2 separate regions of the Homo sapiens genome follow, and region 1 is linked to region 2. The links come from fine-mapping of genetic effects on plasma protein levels. A gene starts in region 2. The other region holds a variant in brackets. All regions are shown on one strand. Distances are between the middles of the regions. Region 1 has its middle 57 kb from the start of CHL1. Region 2 holds the start of CHL1 (cell adhesion molecule L1 like).

Evidence for each region. PIP is the posterior inclusion probability: the model's chance that the variant is causal. The UK Biobank Pharma Proteomics Project read protein levels with antibody pairs (Olink). The fine-mapping took linkage between variants from a reference panel, not from the people measured, so its PIPs are less certain.
Region 1: its variant is fine-mapped to the plasma level of the CHL1 protein (UK Biobank, PIP above 0.99).

What each region holds. Positions count from the first base shown.
Region 1 is chr3:133,520-145,972 of GRCh38, forward strand. No RefSeq gene overlaps it. Among named protein-coding and RNA genes, the nearest start is that of CHL1, 57 kb to the right of the region's middle. The variant T/C (reference allele first, on the strand shown) is at 6,543.
Region 2 is chr3:188,807-201,259 of GRCh38, forward strand. It overlaps CHL1 (cell adhesion molecule L1 like), which reads left to right and starts at 7,957. Exons shown (of 28, transcript NM_006614.4): 1 at 7,957-8,257. CHL1-AS2 (CHL1 antisense RNA 2) reads right to left here and starts at 8,535. Exons shown (of 4, transcript NR_144487.1): 1 at 8,161-8,535; 2 at 7,650-7,702; 3 at 7,190-7,234; 4 at 6,952-7,108.

The DNA.
Region 1 (12,453 bases), 55 kb before region 2:
ACTATTTAATACTTTAATGCTAGAATGACTCACAGTATTCAGGAAGGTGTCATAATTACAGTTTTATTTTAAAGGATACAATGTAGGACTAGCTAGAGGGAGAGACACATAGATGAGGTCTTCGAGTGTCAAATATTCAGAACTTCTATGCACTTTTCTCATGGGATCAGAGCACATCACCCACTCAGGACGTCAGTGTGTTCATCAGCCATGAAGTTCCAGTAAGCTTTGGTGTCCAGGGTTTTTACTGGGTTTTCATTACATAGGCAAGTGGATTGAACCAAATCTCTAGCCACTTCTAGCTTCCCAAGCTCAAAGCCTCTCTAATCACATGGTTGCCTTTTTTTGGTAACCAGTCCCTAACCTGAATCATCTGCTTTGCATAAACTCAAGTGTGATCCAAGGCACACATGAATAACAAAGAAACTCCTATCACTTGGGAAATTTCAAGGATTCAGAGTCTCGCCTTCAGGAACCAGGGGCAAAGGCCAGCCATATTCTTCTTATATGATGTATACTTAAATTTACATATATGCATAAATGTATGTGTATCAATTATATATGTATTATATTGTGATATATACACTATATATAATATATAAATGCATGTATATATAAATGTATATGTACAAATAAACATAAAGCCATCTAATGTCCATGTGTTTTTGTATCTCCTTCATGTACCTATACAGCAGTCCCCTCTTTCCTGCAATGGTTATGTGCTAAGACCCCCAGAGGGTGCCTAAAACTGGATATAGTATTAAACACTGTATATACTGGATACAGTATTAAACACTGTATAAACTGGATACAGTATTAAACACTGTATATACTGGATACAGTATTAAACACTGTATATACTGGATACAGTATTAAACACTGTATAAAATGGATATAGTATTAAACACTGTATAAACTGGATATAGTATTAAACACTGTATAAACTGGATATAGTATTAAACACTGTATATACTGGATATAGTATTAAACACTGTATAAAATGGATATAGTATTAAACACTGTATATACTGGATATAGTATTAAACACTGTATAAACTGGATATAGTATTAAACACTGTATAAACTGGATATAGTATTAAACACTGTATATACTGGATATAGTATTAAACACTGTATAAAATGGATATAGTATTAAACACTGTATATACTGGATATAGTATTAAACACTGTATAAACTGGATATAGTATTAAACACTGTATAAACTGGATATAGTATTAAACACTGTATATACTGGATATAGTATTAAACACTGTATAAAATGGATATAGTATTAAACACTGTATAAACTGGATATAGTATTAAACACTGTATAAACTGGATACAGTATTAAACACTGTATATACTGGATACAGTATTAAACACTGTATAAACTGGATACAGTATTAAACACTGTATAAACTGGATATAGTATTAAACACTGTATATACTGGATATAGTATTAAACACTGTATATACTGGATATAGTATTAAACACTGTATATACTGGATATAGTATTAAACACTGTATATACTGGATATAGTATTAAACACTGTATATACTGGATATAGTATTAAACACTGTATAAACTGGATATAGTATTAAACACTGTATATACTGGATATAGTATTAAACACTGTATATACTGGATATAGTATTAAACACTGTATAAAATGGATATAGTATTAAACACTGTATAAACTGGATATAGTATTAAACACTGTATAAACTGGATACAGTATTAAACACTGTATATACTGGATACAGTATTAAACACTGTATAAACTGGATACAGTATTAAACACTGTATAAACTGGATATAGTATTAAACACTGTATATACTGGATATAGTATTAAACACTGTATATACTGGATATAGTATTAAACACTGTATATACTGGATATAGTATTAAACACTGTATATACTGGATATAGTATTAAACACTGTATATACTGGATATAGTATTAAACACTGTATAAACTGGATATAGTATTAAACACTGTATATACTGGATATAGTATTAAACACTGTATATACTGGATATAGTATTAAACACTGTATATACTGGATATAGTATTAAACACTGTATATACTGGATATAGTATTAAACACTGTATATACTATGCACTATTTTTTCTTCTTCTTTATATTTTCTTGGATAGATTTTTTCTTCACATACATCTTAGCAACTGTAGCATACGATTTTTTTTCTTGTCAAGAATTTTTACCTTTTTACTTTAAGGAAGCACTTTAAGGATTCTATTTGGCATATTCAAATTGACAGCATTACAACTCTTGCACTTTGGGGCCATTATTAAGTCAAATAAGAGTTACTTGAACACAAGCACTGTGATAATGAGACAGTCAGTCTGATAACTGACACAGCTACTAACTCTCCAGTGTCAGGTAGAGTATACAGTGGGGATGTGCTGGACAAAGGGAGGATTCAAATCCCAGGCAGAAGGACCTGGATGGTTGGAGATTTCATCATGCTACTCAAAATGGCACACAATTTAAATCTTTTAAATAGTTTATATTTGAAATTTTCTATTTAATATTTTTAGACCATGGCTGACTGCAGGTAACTGAAACTGCAGAAAGTGAAACTATGAATAAGGGGACACTACTGTATATAAAACTTGACCCTAGTAATAAATTATCAGGAAGAATAAAAAAGAAAGCAGTGAAGTTATCAAAGAAGAAACAAGCCTAATCAACAAACACAAATAGTACTACAATTTTTCCATCAGCTGGAACAAATGCTAGGCAGTGTTTCAACAGTCCCACTCCATCCAAATTCAGTTATTTGCTAGAAGGACCCAGAATACCCAAAAGCAGTTTGTTCTCATGGCTAAAGTTTATTATAACAAATTATACGGAGTAACAATGGTAGGGAAAACATATGCATCAGGCAGATTCCATAGATGTTGGGAATAGGTTTAGAGTCCTTCTTCATCTCAGGCCACACAGAACAGGCTTTTTCTCCAACAGCCATGGGAAGATTCCCTGGAATGTCTCTGCCCAGGGAAGCCCAGTGAAGTGTCAGGGCCTGAAATGTTCACGGAGGCTGGTCACATTAGTACACTCTTCTGTGCCACCAGAGAGGGCGACTGAAACTCAGGACTCCAATAATAAAATCAGGTTCATGTCATCAATTTTGATGTTTGTGCAAAGCAATTCTGTCGAGTTAGTATGGCATGGTCTATTGCTTCAGATATATACAGCAAAATCATAAATCATTAACATAAAGAATCTTCCACATACTATCTTCCCAGGGTTTTGCCATGGTTAATTATGGTTCTAGGTTCCAATGGCGACATGCAAGGAGCAAGCTACCAGATTTTCTGTGTTAACTCCTCAGAAAGAATTAACACTATTGCAACCTATGAACTCCTGAAATGCGTAGACAGCATGAAAGCCCTAAAATTCTAAGCAGGTGAGATCGAAAATCTAGCTGGATTTGAACAAGATAGGGACCAATATATGAAGGTAAGTGTCTCACATCATTAATAAGAGAAACTGGAATAAATTAGCCTCTAAAGAAGACATGAAGAAAAATCAACCCATGATCTCCTCTTAGTTGATGAATTACACACAGTTTCAACCAATGCAATAAATTCTTTTGCTCTTGTTATTCTGAAGGATTGTATAGCAAGCTCTCTTGCTACCTCGCTTTAAAAACTCCGGTGGTCTCCATTACACCTTGATTACTGGCAATCCAATGCTGCATAATTTTCCTTCAGCCTCTCCCTCTAACATTTTTTAGTGTCCCTGTTACCCTCACTGACTACATCCTGCCTCACTACCTTCTCTCAGCTTCCCACACATGCCAAGCTTGTTTCCCACCGAGGTGCCCACGGGATAACTCTTCTCTTTGCCCTTCTTTATGGCCTTTTCTTGGTTGGCCTCTCCTTATCTCAAAGATTTCAACTAAAATACCACTTCTGAGAAATCTTCTCTAATAACTCAGTCAAAAGTAGCCCCATTTCTAAAGCTTTCTCTATCATTTTACCCAGTTTTATTTACTTTTGTGCCTGAAAGTCACCTAACACTTCCTCACTTTACATATGTCTATTTATTTATTTATTTATTTATTTATTTTATGACTAAAATGTAAGCTCTCTGTGAGCAGATACTTTGTCTAAGCTGCTTCCCACTTTAATTCCTATTGCCAGCATTTGGCTCAGAATAGGTGTTCTGTAAATATATGTTGAAATAACAAATTAAGAGTCCTGTAAAGTCTGATTTTAAAGTTGATTGTAAGGTCTCTAGCCCAGGGCTACTGAGAGCATTTTAGTCCATGTATCAGACTTATCCCATAATCTGAGTGATTCCAAGTGTCATAATGAGATAATTGAATCGATGTGGCTCAACAAGTGGTCCACAGAACAATTGAATTAGAATTACATGTTGTCTGGATAAAAATGGAATTATACGAATTGTTCTTCCTGAAATTTTTATTTAGTACCTTAAACTGCAGCTCAGAAGTTTGCATTTTAATGTGTTTTTCAGTGATTCTTAAGTTCACTAAAACAGAAGCTCTGACTAAAATCACAGTGATGATTGTCTATAGGGGCAGTGGCACAGTAAGTAAACTGCCTAGGATGCATAACATCTAAATATATGACAGTTTTTGGTTATGGCAATCAAAATAACAAACAGAAGGAGATTCTTCAAAAATAAGTTTATTCAGGAACGAGCATTGCAATAGGAATACGCATGGGTGTTTTCAGGGAGGCAAAAGAAGATAAGGATTTTTAAAGGTAAAATGATGAGGGCCACATAAGTGTTTCTGAAATAGTTATCCCTGGCTACAAGCATGAATAACCAGGATTGCCTCAGTCTAAGGCAGGACAGGCAGTTGCTGGGCAGATGTCCTTGCAGAAGTATTTTTTATGTCGGTTTGCAGTGGCCTTGTGCACAGTCGTGGTTTTGGCAGAATCTTTCATGATAGCTCTTGTTATCAGGCAATCATGTGTGAGAACCCTCCCTTCATGGCCTTCTTAGACACCATTTTGTCAGGATTTGACCCAAGTGACTCCATTTTAATTCTGACAAGTTTCACAGCTCTGAGCGAGAATGACCATGAAGCGGATCTTTTTTTTTTTTTTTTAAAGTATTACTTGATTTTTGAAGGTCATAGGGCGCAGTGTAGTCCTGCCTCTGACTCTTACTAGATGTGAAAAGTTGAATTTTTAAGCATTCTAAATTCCAATTTCATCTTCTGTGTAGCAAGAGTAGAAATATCTAACTTGCAGCATACTATTTTTTAATTTTTTTTAACTTTTAAGTGCAGGGGTACATATACAGCTTTGTTACATAGGTAAATTTGTGCCACAGGGGTTTGTTGTGCAGATTATTTTGTCACCCAGATATTAAGCCAAGTATTTATTGGTTATCTTTCCTGATCCTCTCCCTCCTTGTACCTAGGCCTCAGTGTGTGTTGTTCTCCTCAATGTGCCCATGTGTTCTCATCATTTAGTTCCCATTTATAAGCGTGAACATGCGGTATTTGGTATTCTGTTTCTGTGTTAGTTAGGATAATGGCCTCCAGCTCCATTCATGTTCCTGCAAAGGACATGATCTTGTTCTTTTTTATGGATGCATAGTATTCCATGGTGTGTATGTACCAAATTTTCTTTCTCCAGTCTACTATTCGTGGTCATTTAGGTTGATTCTGTGTCTTTGCTATTGTGAATAGTGCTACAATGAACATACATATGCATGTGTCTTTATGATGGAATAATTTATATTCCTTTGGATATATAGCCAGTATTGGGATTACTGGGTTGAATGGTAGTTCTGCTTTTAGCTCTTTGAGGAATTGCCATATTGTTTTCCACAAAGGTTGAACTAATTTATACTCTTGCCAACAGTGTATAAGAATTCTTTTTTTCTTTGCAACCTCACCAGCATCTGTTATATTTTGACTTTTTAATAATAGCCATTCTGACTGGTGTGAGATGGTATCTCATTGTGGTTTTGATTTGTATTTCTCTAATGATCAGTGATGTTGAGCTTTTTTCATATGCTTGTTGGCCACATGTATGTTGTCTTTTGAAAAGTGTCTGTTCATGTCCTTTGCCCACTTTTTAATGTAATAGTTTGTTTTTTTCTTGTAAATTTGTTAAGCTCCTTATAGATGCTGGATATTAGAACTTTGGCAGATGCATAGTTTACTTGCAGCATATTTTAAAAGATAAATGAGATAATGCAAAAGACTTAGCACAATGCCTAATAAAAAGTAGCTTGTGGAATGGTAATTTTAAAATGACAAGGTTTTGTTAGTATGATTTCAAGTGGGCAGAAACCAAAGACCTTCTAAATAGGCTTACTAAGTAGACAGAAAGCTCAGGGGAAATGATACAAATAAAGACAGAAGCTCTCCCATTGCTTGCAAAACACACGTGAGGGCTTTTATACTGAGGGCAACATAACTATTCAGACTTCTTATCTGGCTGTCTTTCTTATTAGACTTTCTTATGTTACTTTATTCTTATTATTTATGAATACTAACATCATTTGGGTCAAAAACCACACCT[T/C]TGTGGTGTCCATTTCATAGTACTTATCACATTGTACTGCAGAATCTTTCACCCTCACTAAACATCCTAAGGTAGAGAAGTTGTCCATTTGTGTTTATATCTACAGCATGTGTTACAGTGTTTGACACATACTAGATATACACTACAAATTTGTTAAATGAAGAATGAATAATGCTCAAAGAAACATTTGGTCTGGACTGTCTTCTGATCTGACTGGGGACTCCACTAGAAAGCCATGTTCTTGAGAAATTAGTAATGATAGCCTTTCTTTTTCATTTTAGGAGGTTTCATCCTCTCAGGATTAAACTCCTTCCAAATTAAGAATAATGACTTAAACCCATGATAAGAACTTAATGTAAGTCACTTTTCTCTACCCTAGAAGTAAATACTTTTAAATTCAGAAATCCACCAGGCATTTTTCCATGCACTGATGAGTGCCATGATAGTAAATTAAATAGCAGAAATAGCTGCCTTCATGGATCTATCATTTTAGAAACAAAAGAAAGGACATTGTGTTCTTAGAACCAGCTCATCTTTCTTTCTGCCTCATTCCCTACCTCTCTCTCTATCTTTATAGTAGTTGAAAATGCCAAAATGTAGGATTACATTTTGTCCTTTAGACATTCTCAACATTTGAAACTTGTATGTAAGAAACAAGTGAAGAAATGATCATTAAAAGAAGAGAGAAAATATTGAGTAACCTTTGTTTAAATTTCCACAAAGCCTCAGGTTTCATTGCAATATAAAAGCCACTGAAGTAATGCTTGTTTGATTTGCTTAGCAGGAGCACAACACGAAAATTCCTTGAGCAGGGAAGACAGCTGGTTTGCCAAATCTGCACATTTGGCTGTACAACTGGCTCTATTGGTAGCTTCAGGCTAGCAATATTTTTTACTGACAATTTACATGCTGCTCCAGCCCAAGGTATCTGAAATGAAGTCTTTGCATAAACACAGTTAGAAAAGAACTTGGCTCCCAACCCTGGTCAGAACTCTGCTTTAAAAAAGGAATTCACACTGATCCATGGTAATGTGATAAGGTTGAGCCTTTTCAGCAGAGATTTGCTATGCAAGGCCCCTTGTTTTATATGGCATTATGTAAAACATAATGTCAATAATCCATATTGTCTGTCTTAATACCATTATTCACATAACAGTATTGTGCCTACCTCAGCCGCTTTGTAATCCGGGAACCCCACACGCACATTAAAACAGAGATAACTGTGGAGGAACACGGTTGCATACAAGTTGTGTTGTTCTGGCAGGGAGTTACTCCTCTGCTCCTCTCAGAAAAAGCATTTTAATTCCTTGGGATTTTTTTTTAAGATTAAATAACATCATTTTCTGGGATCTCCAAATTTCCAGCTGCTTATAAGGCTGATTTCATCAAACTAATTAAAATTTCTTTGTGGCTAATCACTTTAGGGCTTAGTTAACTTCTGGAGAATACATGAATATAATTGTAATTTTATCTGATTTTACTCTAACATGGAATTAAATAAGCATATTTTAAACCATATATAAGAATGGTATATGCTGTCTTAGGGCTTGCATTCCATTTTGTTGAACAATTGATTATCCATATTATCCTTAGGTCCCAGGGTACAATGTGTAAATACATCACAGCAAGATATAAAGTGAACTAGAAAAATAATTGAATTACATAGAAATTCTCTAGGGTGGTAGCAATCTATTATATCCATTAAAATTCAGAGATTGTTAAAGCAATCCGAATTATCAAAACTATCTTTAAATTGGGAGAATAGCAAATTGTTTTGGGGGAGGTTCTGATACCAAAGATTTTATCATTTATAAAAACTTGGAACAATCACAGACCTAAATAAAAATTAGAAGTACAGTAACAGAACTTTCTCCTGAACCATTTGAGGGTAAATTGCCAACCAAATGCCATGTTACCACCTAGTAGCCTATAAACAAAGACATTCCCTCCATCACCTCAGCACACCCATCAGAGTCAGGAAATTAGAACTGAAAAATTACTGCCATCTAGTCCTCAGATCTCATTCAAGTTTCATCAATTGTCTCAATATTGCCCTTTATAGCTAAAGGATCCAATTCAGAATCACAAGCTGCATTTAGCTGTGATGTGTCTTTAATATCATTGAGTTTGACCTTGACACTTTTGAAGATCACAGCCTGGTTATTTTTAAAACCATCCTTCAATCTGAGTTCATGCAATGGTGCTTCATGGTTAGATTTAGATGATGTGTCTTTAGAAAGAGTATCACTGAAGTGATGCTGTGTTCTTCTCATTGAATCCTGACATACGTTGTGATTTCCATGGGTTTATTTCTATTTGTTCATTTTGGCCACTTGATTTAGTTGGTGCCTTCCAATTTTCCCCAATGTAAAGTTACTTTTTCCCCTTATAATTAATATTTATTTTATTGGGAGATACTTAAAATTGTATAAATAGCTCATTCTTCATAAAACTTTCAATGAATTCTTTTACTTACATTTGCATGGACTCATGTTTCCTGTTTTATCCAATTGTTTAAAATCTATTGCTATGCTCATTTATTTTCATGCTATATGGTCTCAGATTTGGCCAATGAGAATTCCTTCTGTCTGGCTTCTTTACCCTCTTGACCATGTTTTTTTTAGTGCTTTCATATTTTCTGGCATAATGAGATGTTTTAGGATTACTTTGCACTTTCCCTTTCTCAGCCATGGATTTAACCATTTCTTCATGGAGCTCCAGAATGATATTTGGAAGCCAAGATCTGTGTGCTAAATGTGCTTATTGGTATTGGAGTGTTCCCATTTGCAGGCCCTTGAGTGAAAACAGCTATGCAATACACGAATGCATACACAAAATACATTCATGTTTTTATCTACATTTATTCGCATCTCTGTCACATATACATTGAAAAACATGAGTTCACAGCAATACCTGTAATTTCAATCCAACATCCTAGAGTTCCATCTAGTTTTTCCCCTTTCCATATTTGTATATCCATGTCTCTGATAGTGAGAAAACTATATCCCATTATTTTTAATTGATTTGCTTATTTGATCAATCCCTCTGCATCTAATATCCTGCCTTTGCTGTTACCTTCTCTCCAACATGAATGCCCTCCATGCCCTACTCTGACGCCATGATTGGTGTCCCTGTATGTGAACATGGTCATCACCCTAGTTGGCCCTACTATCTCCATCAGACCACCCTTCTGCACTGATGGCCTTCTGAACCCAGCCAGGCTTCAACATTCCCTGCAGAATTTCCTGCTACATAGACATCCTGGGGCACCTTCACTAGAAAAATGTGGCTCCCTCCCATTACTGCCACAGATGTTTACTTTGTTTTATTCTACATAAGGATTAAGATTAAATTGATATACAGGAAAAGAAACAGGAAAGGAGGGACAAGGGAAGGGGAGGGAAAGGGAGAATGAATGAGGAAGGGCTAAGACATCCTTTCAAATCCAATTTATCCCAATATATTATTATATATTGGCAATATACAACAGAATGTCATAATGCACTCACATTTAAACATGATCATGTGTAAAATTTCTATAACCTTGGATGCTCCCATATGTCCCTAAAAAAGATCAAATACGTGTTTTTCTTGAGCTTGTAACATTAATGAGTATTTAACTTACTCACATTGCTTTTATTTTGCCAGCTCAGTGTCAAGAATTCATTTAGATGGCAGACATCAATGTGCACTTTAACACTAAACCATGAAAATATATACTCACTAGAGTAAGTCCAAGCCATTATTCAGAGACATTTTAATTCCCATAGTTCATGTTGATATCTATCTCAAAAATATCAGGAAACAAGTCTTCATTTTTGCAACATTGGTTTGTTGTCATAGGTAAAAAATAATAATTAAGAGCAAACAGATACTGCCATAATTTAAAGTAATATGATTTATTTTCAATGGACACTAGCATGTTATAAAGCAATTTACAACATCAAACAAAGCCATAATGTTTCAGAATGGGTCATTTAGCATATTATATTATGGCACTTTACTTATTATAGCTTTGAAACTATTATGAAATTTTCTCAGCCAGCACTTTTTTCTTTGCAAGAATCCTTGTTTTTTTAATGTTGTTCTTTTTTTTTTTTTTGCATTTCCAGTGAATTGAATCTGTTTCAATATTTAATCACTGTCTGAGTTTAGCAGGTATAAAAGATTTATGGTTTTATCTCATTATTAATATATTTACATAGCGCTTTTTTCTTTATTAGTGCCTAGGCTGAATAAATAATAATAATAATAAAATAGGTAAGAAAAGGAGAGGTGTCATTTTCTGTTTAATTCTCCTAGATTGTTGAATGAGATTTTTGGATGAAACATACATCAATTTTAGAATATAATTAGATTTGAATGTGATTAGTGCCAACTTCATGCTGTCTAAAAAAGAGTTTATTTAATCAATTATAACTGTTTCTTACGAAGTCAAGTTCTTGATTTGTGATTTCATTTTATTGTGTTCGGAGACCCTTGCTAAATATGTCATTAGGAGACAAAAGCTCAAATCCCTCGGCCTTCTTACTACAGTAATGTTTCATTTTAATTTAAATTCAACTCATAAAACATCTCTGTCCTTTTATAAACAAGGTGAAAAGATAAGTTCAATTCAGCCTACTGAAAGCATGTTCCTAGAATTAAAATACTGGCAAAGTATTTTAGTCTTCCTCTCAACACATCTGGCAAGTTTTTTAGTTTAGTTTTGTTTTGTTTTATTTTGTTTTTTTGAGATGGAGTTGCCCAGGCTGGAGTGCAGTGGCACGATCTCAGCTCACTGCAACCTCTGCCTCCTTGGTTCAAGCTGATTCTCCTGCCTCAGCCTCCCTAGGAGCAGGACTACAGGCACATGCCACCACGCCCAGCTATTTTTTGTATTTTTTAGTAGAGACTGGGTTTGGACATGTTCGTCAGGCTGGTATTGAACACCTGACCTCAAGTGACCCTCCCGCCTCAGCCTCCCAAAGTGCTGGGATTGTAGGCATGAGCCACTGTGCCCGGCCATATCTGGTAAGTTTGAAAAAAAAAACCCAGTCACGGAGCCCATTCAGTTACCTCTGGCCCTCTGCTGTCCCCATCACAGCTACTTGGAATACTTGGGTTACTTTTTGATTCATAAGCGATATCTCATCATAGTCCCGAATTAACCAGCTGTTACTGATGGAGGCTTAAAATCACGTTTAGCAAACCTCTACCTTTCTCAACAATCATTGAAACAGCTGTCTCCAAATCTGCATACATATCCCCTATATACTTCGTGGTTATTGTTCCATTTTGAAGGGTTGTCATTTTAAAACTAAAAACTAAAAGACATTTTTTTTCTCTAATTCTTTGCCCCCCAAATCTTCTAAACGTGTGTAAAACATTTTAGCCATACCACAGACTTCATTTGGTATTTGTATTGTGGCTGGTATTAGTGCACAAGAAATGAAATACTATCTGAGAAAGTGTTTTGTAAAACATAGGACTTTGCTACTCTTTAGAAATGGGTGAGGATTTGAGGTGAGTGAGATTGTGGTATTCATGCAGTTGGTAGACTCAAATCATGCTGGCTCCCTGCTGAGGAATCCTGGGTCCTGATTCAGCTAGGTTGCCCAGCTACTTTCCCTCTTCTCACTTCAATGTTCTCTCAGGACCCGAGGAGAAACTGAACCTTATTTCCAATCTTTCTTGTCTCTTCCACCAGATGCTTGCTTAAATTCACCAACACTATGACCTATTTTCTCGGGACCTTCTTTCCTAAAGCTACAGTAGAGTATTCCCTGATGTTGTATTAAAGGATGCTAACAAGTGAATGGATGCAACTGTATTAATGGGGTCAGATGCAAAGAGACACCACCTTAAATGACATAAGGGACCCTAATAGTGGCCGTTTCAGGCCAGGTAGACCAACACTTGGAAGACAACA
Region 2 (12,453 bases):
GTTGTCTGCCCCCTTCACTATCTGCCTGTTTTGGATTACTTTCCAGTGTTTTCAGGTACTTACATTTTATATTTTGTCTATACTTCGTAGTTGTTTTGTTTTGTTTTGTTTTGTTTGAGACAAAGTCTTGCTCTATCACCCAGGCTGGAGTGCGGTGGTGTGATCTCGGCTCACTGCAACCTCTGCCGCCCAGACTCTAGTAATTCTCCTGCCTCAGCCTCCTGAGAAGCTGGGATTACAGGCGTGCACCACTGCGCCCAGCTAATTTTTGTATTTTTAGTAGAGATGGGGTTTCACCCTGTTGGCCAGGCTAGTCTCAAACTCCCGACCTCAAGTGATCCACCTGCCTTCGTCTCCCAAAGTGCTGGTACTACCGGTGTAAACTACCACACCTGGTCTATACTTCATAGTTTTAGGGTTGGTTGGTTCTGAAAGGACCCATTATTAGAAATCTATAACTTCACATTGGAAAGAGTTCTCATATTACAAACCTTTGAAAACATAATTTTATTGGCTGCTTCATTACAGGATTGCAGAATAATCTATTAGTTTAAACAATGTGAAATTGTCATTTTTCCAGGTCAGAAATGCTCAGATAATGGTAATTTCATATGGTTTAAACTAGTAATTATGTTCTTAGATATTTATAATTTATTTTATCATTGAATATCTATGGGAATATAGAGTTTCCTGTAGTTCAGTTTGCTTACATCGTATAGAGTGTTAGAAGGAGAATGCCTGGGTCTAAATTTATGTACGTCTTTAAACCCCTTCAATATAATTGCTATTTTTGTTATTAAATTGTAATGTAAATAACATGTAATTTTTTTGTAAAATGGTTGCATACATTAATGATATTTAATATGGCTTTCATCCTACAATCGTGTCATGCAATTACATTTTGGCTTTACTATTTTTTCTTTGGCAAAATATTATCAAGTTATTTAATTGATTTGTGTTTGTTCCTTATTATCCACACTGAATATATTCATTATGGTTGTTAGCTTCTCTACTTCATCTTTGGGTAAATGTATCAGAATATTTTAAGTACCCAGAAATATTTGAGACTTTCATCATCAAATTTCCTCCTTTATCCATATTTAAGACTTTAAAATCTGCTTAAATTTAGGAATTTCTAAAAATAATTTCAAATTTTATCTTAGATTCAGTGGGTACATGTGCAGGTTTGTTACATGGGTATATTACATGGTGCTATGGTTTGGGGTGTGAATGATCCTGTCACCCAGGATCATCGAGCATAGTACCCAGTAATTAATTTTGCAATCCTTAGTCCCCTCCTCCCCTCCCTCAGCTACTAGTTCCCATTGTCTAGTGTTGCCATCTTTATGTTTATGGGTACTCAATCTTTCACTCCAAGTTGTAAGTGAGAACGTGGTATTTGGTTTTCTGTTCCTGCCTTGATTTGCTTAGGATAATGGCCTTCAGCTGCATCCATGTTGCTAACGAGGACACAATTTTGTTATTTATTTTATGGCTGCATGGTATTCCACGGTGTATACATTTTCGTATCCAATACACTGTTGATGGGCACCTAAGTTGATTCCATGTTTTTGCTATTGTGAATAGTGCTGTGATGAACATATGAGTGAATGTGTATTTTGGTAGAACTATTTATTTTCCTTTGCATGTATACCTAGTAACAGGATTGCTGGGTTGAATGGTAGCTCTGTTTTAAGTTCTTTGAGAAATCTCCAAACTGCTTTACACAGTGGCTGAAATGATTTACATTCCCAGCAACAGTGTATAAGCGTTTACTTTTAGGAAACTTTTAAGATGGCTTCTATATGCAAGTAATAATATTTGAAAATGTGTTCTATATTTGTATTATTGTGCATTCACTCAGATACAGAAAAAGGAATCTAAGTCAATAAGTGTTTCCTGTTTGGAGAAAACTCAATATATGGGCAATACAAGTGTTATATATAAAGCTCTTGCCTGGTTATGTGACCTTAAGTGTTGTAGTATGAGCTGGCACAAAACTCTCTAAGTGAGAAACAGAAAGGATATGGCATAAGAGAGAGTAACTAATCCCCATAAGATAAGGCAAATTTTTCATGTCAATATAAACAGACGATTTGGAACCCTTGCTGTGGGCTTACTGTACTGTGGCATAGTGCTTTGAATGCCTAAGAAGGTTTGTCTGTTTATCATATTCTGAAAAACAACATGAAAATAATAAATTGATAGGTCTCATTTAACCCCTGGAAGACAATAAATCCAATGCAATGCTTGTAAAAAAACTGAGTTATGTTTGTGTTAGCACAGTGCATCACATACTAGCAACCTGTGATTTCAGTACATGTCTGCTAATTAATTTATTTTGTAGGAAAATAAAGTTAATTGAAAGCATGAAATATGGTTCCTAAACTATGCATGGAGAGGGCTAATTGGTCCATGGCTTTTTAAAAAAACGGATAAAAATATGCCTTAAAAGGATGTCCTATTATACCTTAGTTCAAAAGAATAAAGTCCCCACCCATGTCTAAATGTATGCTAAACCTTAAGAATATCTTAAAGCAAGAATAGTAAATACCTAACACATGAGAATTATCTTTTGTATAATATCTGTGATAGAAAACATTAGTAGGTCACTTTAACCTTTCCTGCTCAGCTCCGATGCAGGGTCAGGATCCTTTGGACACAGTGTTTCAGTAAGTCACTACCAATCAGTTAGGTTAGTTTATGAAATGAAGAGTTTTTTTTGCCATGTATACACCTCTTACTAAACAACCTATAACAAGAGAATAATCTTACCTAGAAATGTACCACGAAGAAGAATTATTTTGATTTTAAGAAACAGGAAACCATCGAAACTATTTTACATGAAACATTTTTTTGTCTCACCCGGCTACAAGGTCAAGTTGTATTCCAGTTTCAGCTTTTAATAAAAAATAACCTTTCAGTTTATTTGAAGATCTAGGTCTTGGAATATAATTCTCAAGTATCTGTCTCTCTCCTCTTTTCTCTATGGTGACTTTATTCTCAGGAAGGCTCTTTCTAAGTGGTGATAAGAAGAAGGGAGTTTCTCCTGCCTTATGTCATACCTCTGAGCAACCCTCAGTTTTTTCCTAGTAGCTCATAAATCCAAGGTAGGTTTCTCATTGGCTTCTGTTGGGTCTGATGCCCTTCATAGCTTTAGTCCCCATAGACTTAGGAGTAGAAAATATTGGCTGGTCGTGCCTGGGTCACATGGACCAGGGGTAACTAGAAAGCATTGGAATTAGCCTCAATTCGGCCACATAAACATAGGAGATATTATTCCCTAGGTCCAACCAGGCTAAATGAACGGAGATAAATGCTTGGCAAGCAAAAAACAACAGGTATTCGTGGTAGCTTCCATTCTTATTTTTCTTAACTATTCTTCTGAAATTGTTCTGACGACAGAGATTACAGTTGCATTAAGGATAAAGTTTAAGCAGTTATAATAAAAGTCTCCAAAGGAGATTGGCTCAAATTGAAAGGGGACATTCAATTTTTTATGGTATTAAGTAGGTTCTGATCCTCAGAGTCATGTAGGAATTCAGGCCAGAGTGGGGTTTCTTTGTCATCCTCAACATGAGCCTTTTACTACTGTGGGTTAGTCAAAAGGAAAAGGAGAAGTGAATCTAGATGATCTTTAAGTAGATGAGCTGAGAGTTGCCAACAGCATTTTTCCTCATGTCTCTTTGGTGAGAACCTAGTCCTAGAACCAAACTAAGTCAAAAGAGTGACTAGAAAATTTAGTCTTTAGGTTAGCGGCCCTGTGTCCAGAAGGAGAAAAAGAACTAGGCCGGGCGCCATTGGCTCTCGCCTGTAACCCCAGCACTCTGGGAGGCCGAAGCGGGCGGATCACGAGGTCAGGAGACCATGCTGGCTCACATGGTGAAAATCAGTCTCTACCAAAAATACAAGAAGAAATGAGCCGGGCGGGTTGGCGGGCGCCTGTGGTCCCAGCTACTCCCGGGGCCGAGGCGGGAGAATGGCGGGAACCCGGGGGGCGGAGCTTGCGGGGAGCCGAGGTCGCGCCACCGCACTCCAGCCTGGGCGACAGGGCCAGACTCCGTCACATACAACAACAACAAAAACAACAAAAAACAGATTAGTGGGCAGAGGAAGTGGAGAACAACCTGTGGCTGCCACAAGCTCTTGTTGGTCTTTCCTTTTTCTCTAACATGTTTCTGTTACATTGAGTGGAAAACATACTTTCAAAAACAACTGGAAAAAAAAAGAAAAGGAGAAACTTCATTTTGGCTATGTGTCTCTGTAAAAAGATCAGCCTTTATGCTCCTGGTATTACTCGCTATCCCACTATTCGACATTTGTCTTGTTTGCTGCAACAGAATAATAATAAATAAAATTATCTTCAAAGATGGCAGTGACTTTTCATCCTGTAAAATGATACAAGATTAAAAACTTGGAGATTTTTTTCAATATATTCTCGGCCATTAACCAGTTGTACAACTCTGATAAAATTTCTGAACCTTACTCTTTTCAGATATAAAAAGAAGCTATGGAAGATTATGTTTTCTGAGGTCCCTTCCAGACTGAAAAGATTTCGTACCATGTTGGAAATAGAGAGGTTTAGAAGAAATTCTCATCCTCCAGACATATGAGGACTTTCTCCAACAAATAGGAATTCATCCTATAACTCAGTTCACAGGCCTTTGAGATAAGACTTGGGGGCATAGGACTTTGGAGCAAACCATCAATAGGAGAGAAAACTAGTCATTGTAGGCATTGCTGATTGGAGGGTGGGAAATCCTTCTGACCTGCACAAGTAATCAATGGATGCCTTAAAGCATGAGATTTGAAAACACTTAACATTATCTTGGCTACATAATTATAATGTTATTAATGGCCACAAAGTTTCTTAGCCTTTTTAAAAAATCCAGTGAAAGTATTTGATTTCATGACCTCCCAGGGCTGAATTATACATATTAATGATCCATGGCATGCAATACAAGATTTTACCTTTTTAGTTGTTCCAGAATTATTGCCCTTTGATTTTTAATACATATCCTTTTGTTCTTGTATTAAAGGACAAGTTAAAGGAGTAGTGACTCTGTCAGGATAACTCTGCAGAATTAATATGGTCTTTTTAGCTTTATTAATATCAAAGCTGAAGTGGCTGCTTTGTACTTTCAAGGTTGCTTTTGAAGGATCTATTCCTCAGTGGAACATCCTGCTTCCTGCTTTTTATTTTTTATTTTTATTTTTTATTACAGCAGTTGGCCGGAAAGCCCCTGTTGATCTGTGACTATTTGGAACTGCTAGACTGAAATGCCATTTTCAAAACTCCAGCTCTTCTGCTAAACAATTTTTCTAGGAATGATGCCACATCACTAGCTACTTGTATTTGCCAAAAGGCAATACTACTTCAATGGCCCTAGCTCTGGGAATGATACCAAATGATGGTTCAGGAGGGAGGGAGGGAGGCAGTAAATCAGCAGGAAAAGCTGAAAAATGCCCCAGCTTTTAATAGCTTTTATCTTTTTCCAGATGACTGGCCTCTCTCTCACCTTCTGCTTCTATTCATGATAGGGCCCTTTTCTCCCCTATTTTTGTGGCTTGATATTAGTATTTTCATTCGAAACGGCCGTCCTCAATTATCAGAGAGAAAATTCACACCTTTCAAAGCTACGGCAATCACATTTCCATGTGACTCATAAGTATATCTTCTTTCTCTAGCACCTAGGTGCAACTGTGGGATGCCTGATAGATTAGGATTGTATGTTGAATGGGAAATGGGTCTGAACCAAGTGTCAGACAGTAGAATGGGAGCCAGGGGAGGGTTCCAAAGCAGCAGCAGAAGGTATCTCTAGCAAGCATCCGCTCTGGCTGGGGACTGTCTTCTGGTTCCAGCCTTACTGGAAGCTCAGGCTGTAGAGTTGTGAATTCCTGGGGCCAGGCAAGCCTAGATGTGTTGCCTGCTTTTGATAATGTATCAAAAATATGAACTCATCCTTGGAAGCGACAGCTATGAGGTGTTTCTTGGATGTAGAAATTTAGGTCATCTGTCTTCCTTTTGCATTGCCTTAAAAAGTACGATTTCCTTTCTTGGTTTATCATTTGCTGGCCTTCTTTCTTTCCATCCTTCCTCCCTTCCTTCCTTCCTTCCTCCCTTTTTTCCTTCCCTAGACTTTCCCTATCTCCCTCTTTTCTTTCGTAAAATTTGGTTGCCTGGGATAACGTGTATTGCATACAAGCTGACTTCCTTACTGTCCCTAGTAAGCTATGTGTGGCTATTATTTCTTCATTTATATGCAATGCCAGAAGCTTAGAAGAATGTTATCTCCCTTTCAGTTAAAAACTCATAGTTAAGAACTGGCCATCTTCTTGTTTTGGGTATTGTGGCTTGGTACTGTCTAATATATTTGGAGGGTATTTGATTTTTTAAAAAGCTACTGGCCATGCCTATTGAGTTTCCTACTGAGCCCAGCACCCAGACCAGTGATTGATTAAATAGTAGCTGCTCAATAAATATTTGTTTTGTAAATAATGATTCTATTGTCAAGAAACAAATCACCAAGAAAGAAGGAGCTATATATTTAAGAGTACTCTGTTCATCTGGCCAAAATGGAGTTCCGAGTCCCTTGCTCAGCTGATGTTTGTTCACCCAGAAGATGGTAAACTCCTGAGACCAACTTCGCTTTGTTGTTCTCTTGTGGTTCCTTGACCTTGGAAATGTTTTTCTACAGGCAGAGTATTTCCCCCTGTTGGAATTTTATTTAATATTCTATCTTTGTTTCTACTTTAGAAAACATGCCACGTGAATAATGATGCCTCAGGCAAAAGAAATCACTCCAGCAGTACAATTTAAACTTAGGACAAATCCTGCCCTCACTTGCATTCACAATTTGCCAAGGCAGTTGGTAAGAACTGTGCCCACACACAAATTGACAGAATCGAGGCCCCAAGGTTAGCGATGATTAAAATTTAAAAGTCCATTCATTCATTTTCAAAATATTTTATTCGATTGCTTCTGAGGCAGAATCATGAGTTGCCTTCGCTTTTGCTGCTCCCGGTGGTGGCATCCAACTCTGAGGATAGCTCATCCAACTCTGAGGGTAGCTCTGAGGGGAGCTAAATATCCTCATTGTTCAATGAGCTAGATGAAAACAAAACGAGGCTGTAAGGTCAATCTCACAGCCTTAGTGGAGTAAAAATTAGAAGTCAATAATTCTCTTACCAACAAAGAGGACTTGCATTCAACAGGATTTTCAAAAGTGGTATCCTGTAAAAATTTTGGAAAATACCACCATAATGGAAAAAAAATAAAGTGGCATATAAATCAAATGTAGTGCTAAAAATTATAATTTTTCCATATGAATTTTGGAATCCTAAAATATTTTTATGTGTTTGTGGATTCATAAGGCATCAGAACTGGCTTTTTGCACTGAATATGAGTACAGAAGGCTTTCCTCTCCAATAGTGAATTAATAAAGGATAAGTAGGAAAAACGTTACGAAACGATGTGGTAACATTATAGACTCTGTATTAGGGCAAAAATTGTGAGATAGTAGAAGATCTGTAAATTTAAGCATGCACAATTTGACAGCGGATGGTCGTAGCATATTTTGTAAATTCAATAGCAAGCCCCACCACGCCCTTAAATGAAGGAAAGCAAGAAGACAATTTTTAATACGTACATGGCACCACACCCCTCTAAGACGCAGCAATGGGAGAAAAGCAGATTGGCGACCTGTGTGTGCAACATGAACCGAGTGAAACCATCGGGGAGGGGGTGGGGGGCGTTTCTTTTAAATGTCGCTTTTGCAGATAAACGAGCAGGGATCCTACCTCTTTTGACCGGAGATGTTGAAAAGCACGACCAAAGTTTTTGGCTTGGTCTCTTGCTTTCCACAACGAGATAAAGTCTGAAGCCTGTAACTCTCCCTGTCCCGCGGGAGCGTGCAAAGGGAGGGAAGATAAGCGGCGTGGGTGAGGGGTGGCGGCGCAGAACCCAGGAAGGGAGCAGAGGCGAGAGCCAGCCTCCGGCAGGAGGGCGTAGACCCCGGTGCCAGCCAGAACGGCTCCAGCCTTCCCGCGGCCAGAGAGCCAGCGGCGGGAGGGGACGGGCGGGACCTCCGCGGACAGCCCCGGGTGCGGACCAGCGGGCAGCGGCCGGCGAGACCCTCCCTGGATCCGCCCAGAGCTTACCGGACCCTGCGCGCCCCCGTCCCGGCTCCCGGCCGGCTCGGGGGAGAAGGCGCCCGAGGGGAGGCGCCGGACAGATCGCGTTTCGGAGGCGGCGCAGGTGTGTCAGGGGTGGGGGTCCGCTGGCATCTCTCGTGCCGGCGCTGGGGGGGTCTCCCGTGGAGGAAGGGCTGAAGGTGCTCCGGGAGGGGTCCACTCGTTATGGAAAGGAAGCGGGGCGCGGTCAGGGTCCCTCGTCCGCAGTGGGGGTGGTCCGGGCCCCTCAGCCTGCACCCGGGAGGAGACGCCCCCTTTTCACGCCCCGCCCCCGGTGGCCGAGGCCGGATTCGGACAGCTCGGGGTCAGTCGACGGAGCACACCGGGCGCCCGAATCCGCCGGGTCCCACTCACGCCCGCCGGCCGCCGGTAGGTTGGCCCTCCCGCTTCCAGCCTCCGCCACCCCATCCCTCGCTGCTCTCTGAGGAGGATTCCAGACCCCCCCGTAGATCTCCGCCCTCTCTCGGGTGGGGCTCCGAGGTCTAGCTGGTCTGGGGGTCAGTCCCGGCCTCTGTCTCCCACCGCGCCCCTCGCTCCCCTGGACACCGCCTGGTGTGTGGGGCTCAGACCCCCCCAGTCCACTGCCCCTGTGTGGCTCCTCCTCTCAGGAGAGGATTCTAGATCCCAGCCCGGGGGGGGTTCCGAAAATGCCGCCAGCCTGGAGCGGGGAATCCATGGACCGTGGGGTTGTGGGGTTGGGGAGCACGAAAACCCAGAGAGGGGCTAGAGCTCCACCTCCCCAGACCGCCGAGGGGCGAGAGGGCGCGCCGGGGGCCGTGGTTGCCATGGCTCCTGGTAGCGGAGCCCGGGGGGCTGGAGATGCCGGTCGCGGATGGTCCCTTCTTCCTCTTTGTGCCTCTCTCTTTCTCTCGCTTTTTTTTTTTTTTTGGAGTGTGAGTGTGCGTGGGGAGGCAGCACGGAGAAAGTGATTAATTTGGGGAGCAGGGATTGGAGCCGGGAGGCTGGGGAAAGCCAGCCCCTCCGTTCCCACTCTCCGGGCTCGCTGCGAGCCACAGTGTCTCAGCCAGGGGCAGGGCCGGGGAACTCCTGCGAAAAACCACGGGCCGGAGGAGCAGCAGCCGCGCGGGCCCAGGTACCCCCGCCCCAGACGGCCAGCAGGGTGGAGCGCAGGGTGGGCGTTTGGGCTGCTGGGCGGGAAGGCGGGCGGGGAAGGGGTGGGAGGCCGGCGGCGGAGGGCAGGTGTGCGTCGGCAGGGCTGGGTGGCCCGGCAGAGAGGGCGCCCCAGGTTCAGCCCCTCCTCGAAGGGCGCCGGCGTCCAGTCCCGCTCGTGGGAGCCGCGGAGCAGCCCCAGGGCCGGCGAGCGGCTGCCCTGCCAGGCGCGTGCGCGAGGGCGCGCTCCCGCGGGAACGCGCCGTGCGCGGGGAGATTTGCGCGTGCGCGTGGCGATGGTAACTGGTGGGCCCCCCGGGCTCGCTCTAGGCGGAGGCTCCCGGGACGCCCACGTGGCTTCGAATTCCAGCTCCACCATCACTGTGATGCGTCACTCTGGACTAGGCATTTAACTACGTGCCTCAGTTTCCCTTTCTCAATAATACGGAGATTATCGATACCCTCTATACTGGGTTGTTGCAAGACTGGAATGAGATGATACAAGTAATTTAACACCATAGATTTTTAAATTTAACACCATATGCATATTTGATGCATAATAAGCACTCAAAAGTTATTGTCGTTGATGCCATTACTGTTAGTTAATCCTCAGTTTAATTACATATGGTGCATTTTCATTTCTCTGCATTTTCATTGAAGTAAAAATTCTGCGTTTTCTAATTTTGGAGAATAATCTTAATTAAAATATGAATATTTGTACTGCACAGTCCAACTCCTACGAAGCTCTGCCTTGCAGCAGATTGGAAGAGAGAAACTGATCAACTGCCGATGAAGTTGGCTTTTCAGTATATTGATGGAGAGAGAAGCTTAGGAAGCTCTTTGGGGAAACTTTTGGTGACAAGAAAATAAAAAGTTTATCCCAGAGTTTTTCTTTTGTAAATCTTTGTGTTTTCTCTTTCACCTGCAGATGTTGCAGTTGGGTTTGTCTTAATTTCAGTCTCTTTGTGAGGGACCACCATTTGGCTTTCATAATTTAACGTGGTTACAGAGCCTATGTATACCCTGGCTTTCCATTTTATGGCCTTAAGTGCTGCAGTGGATTTACCTTTAGTAATGGCAGAACGTAGTGTATAATCATTCCTTGCAAGCTCCTGAATATTGTGAGCAAATCAATGGAGACAAATAGTTATTACTGGATGGGTGTGAGTACTGGCTATGGCAACTCATTAAAATCTCTTTCAGGGTATGTTTGTACCCACTTCACTGCAGCACAAGACTATGATGATGAATATATGTTTCCCAGATTGTTATCTGTTGCATGTAGACTTACGGATCCTTTTCTTCAAAGAAACGGCTATAGATATTTATTGATTCCTCATGGTTATATAGGTCCTCCAACCTATCTGCTGATAAGTACACTGTACACTTCGTGGGCCTAGCTGTAGGTCTAAGAGGAGTTGATTTTGCACATACTATACTTATTGCATTTAAGTTAATTCATCTCATTACATGAATTGGTTTTAAATAAATTTTTAAAATCATTTGATTATTAAAATATAGGCATTTCTTGGTGAACTTGAGGCAAGTAAAGCCTGACAGATGTCACCATCACAAAGATCCTTAGTGACCTTTACAAAATAGAGCTCACCCAGAAAAACATTTGCTAGATAGAAACCTGATTTTATAGTTGCTTCTGAAATCTTTGAAGATAGGAGGTTATTTGCCCCAAAATTGCTTTGTTGAAATAATTTAGCCTGATTCGCTTTTATAGAAAAATAAGGGTAACGATCAAGACTGATTTAAGATTCTTGTATTTTTAACCGATAAAAGAAAATTAAGTAATAGTTGGGGAACTACTGGTGTCAGATTTGAAGGAATGATTGTCAGGAAATACTGAGAGTATTACTTCAGGTAGCAGTGTTTGGCTTTGCAAGACAACCCTCTCATCCTCACTGTGAATATGTCATCTTTAAAAGGTACCTTGAGGAATTAGTGTGACAGCTTCTCTGAAATTCATGTGATCATTTACATATTGTTTCCCAGGAGCTTTGGCATTAAATGTTTCATTTATTGGAAATTATTTTGCCCTTTAATTTATGACAGCCAACAGTGCAATAGAGTCTAATGTATTTTAGAAACAATAAAATTAGCTTTTCACCATTTTCTATTTTCCCTAAAAATCTAGCAGCAATGCACTTGGAATGCTTAAGTTAGTCCAGAGACAAATGGTAAGAGTAGGAAAACATGACAGATTGGGAGGTGTTGAGTTCTGAATTTGGGGACCTAATTGAAATGCAAAGGTATAATCAAGAGAATGAACTTGTCTCTGTACTGAGGTTGTTTTCAGTGATGTACTATATTATCTGATTCAGTCAACGTTCCTTGTTATTTTTTCAAACCAAGATTGAGAATACTATATTTTCAATTATGAACATTTTGATTACAGTTTCATTCTGACTAATTCAGTCGGAAGAGAATGCAATTATTATGGTCATTTACATACAATATGCTAAGTTAACACAGCTAATGAGTGAAAGCATAATATTCTTTCTGTTTGTTCCTGGAAAAATATTGTGCTAAGCATTCTTTCAAAGAAAGATTACATTATTCGCTATCATTTTATGTCTATCTACAAGTAGAATTGGCATTGAGCCTTTTCTCTGCTATTAAAGTGAAATCTCTTATATTTTGGTGATCACATGCCTTTCCTCTCACCCCTTGGGGGAGACTGGAAACAATTCTCAATTTAATTAGATATGCTGCTTTCTTTTTTCTGTACATCTTTATCTGAGGAAAGATTGTATTTTCTAATTTGGGAGGCTGCTTAACACCTTAAACATTACTAATTACTGCAGTTTATTTTATGTGTGTCGCAATAGTGTAGTTAGTTAATTATAGCTTTCTCATTAGCACCACGTAGAGAATAATGAATTAACACATCCCTTTGATCAAAAAGGATTTAAGTTTATCTTCTGAGAATAAAAGTGTTATTGTGTTACTGAAAGTCACTATAATTTTCCCAAGAAACAAATTGGTTGGAATTCTGTATCACTGGGTTAGGAAGCTCAATGAATGAGTTGGATTGATCACAAAGTAGAGTAGAGCTGTGGTTGCTTGGCAACCTGACATTATTCTGCCATTTCTGGTATATTTATCCAGTAAACTAGAAAATTCTGTTTCGTTAACGAA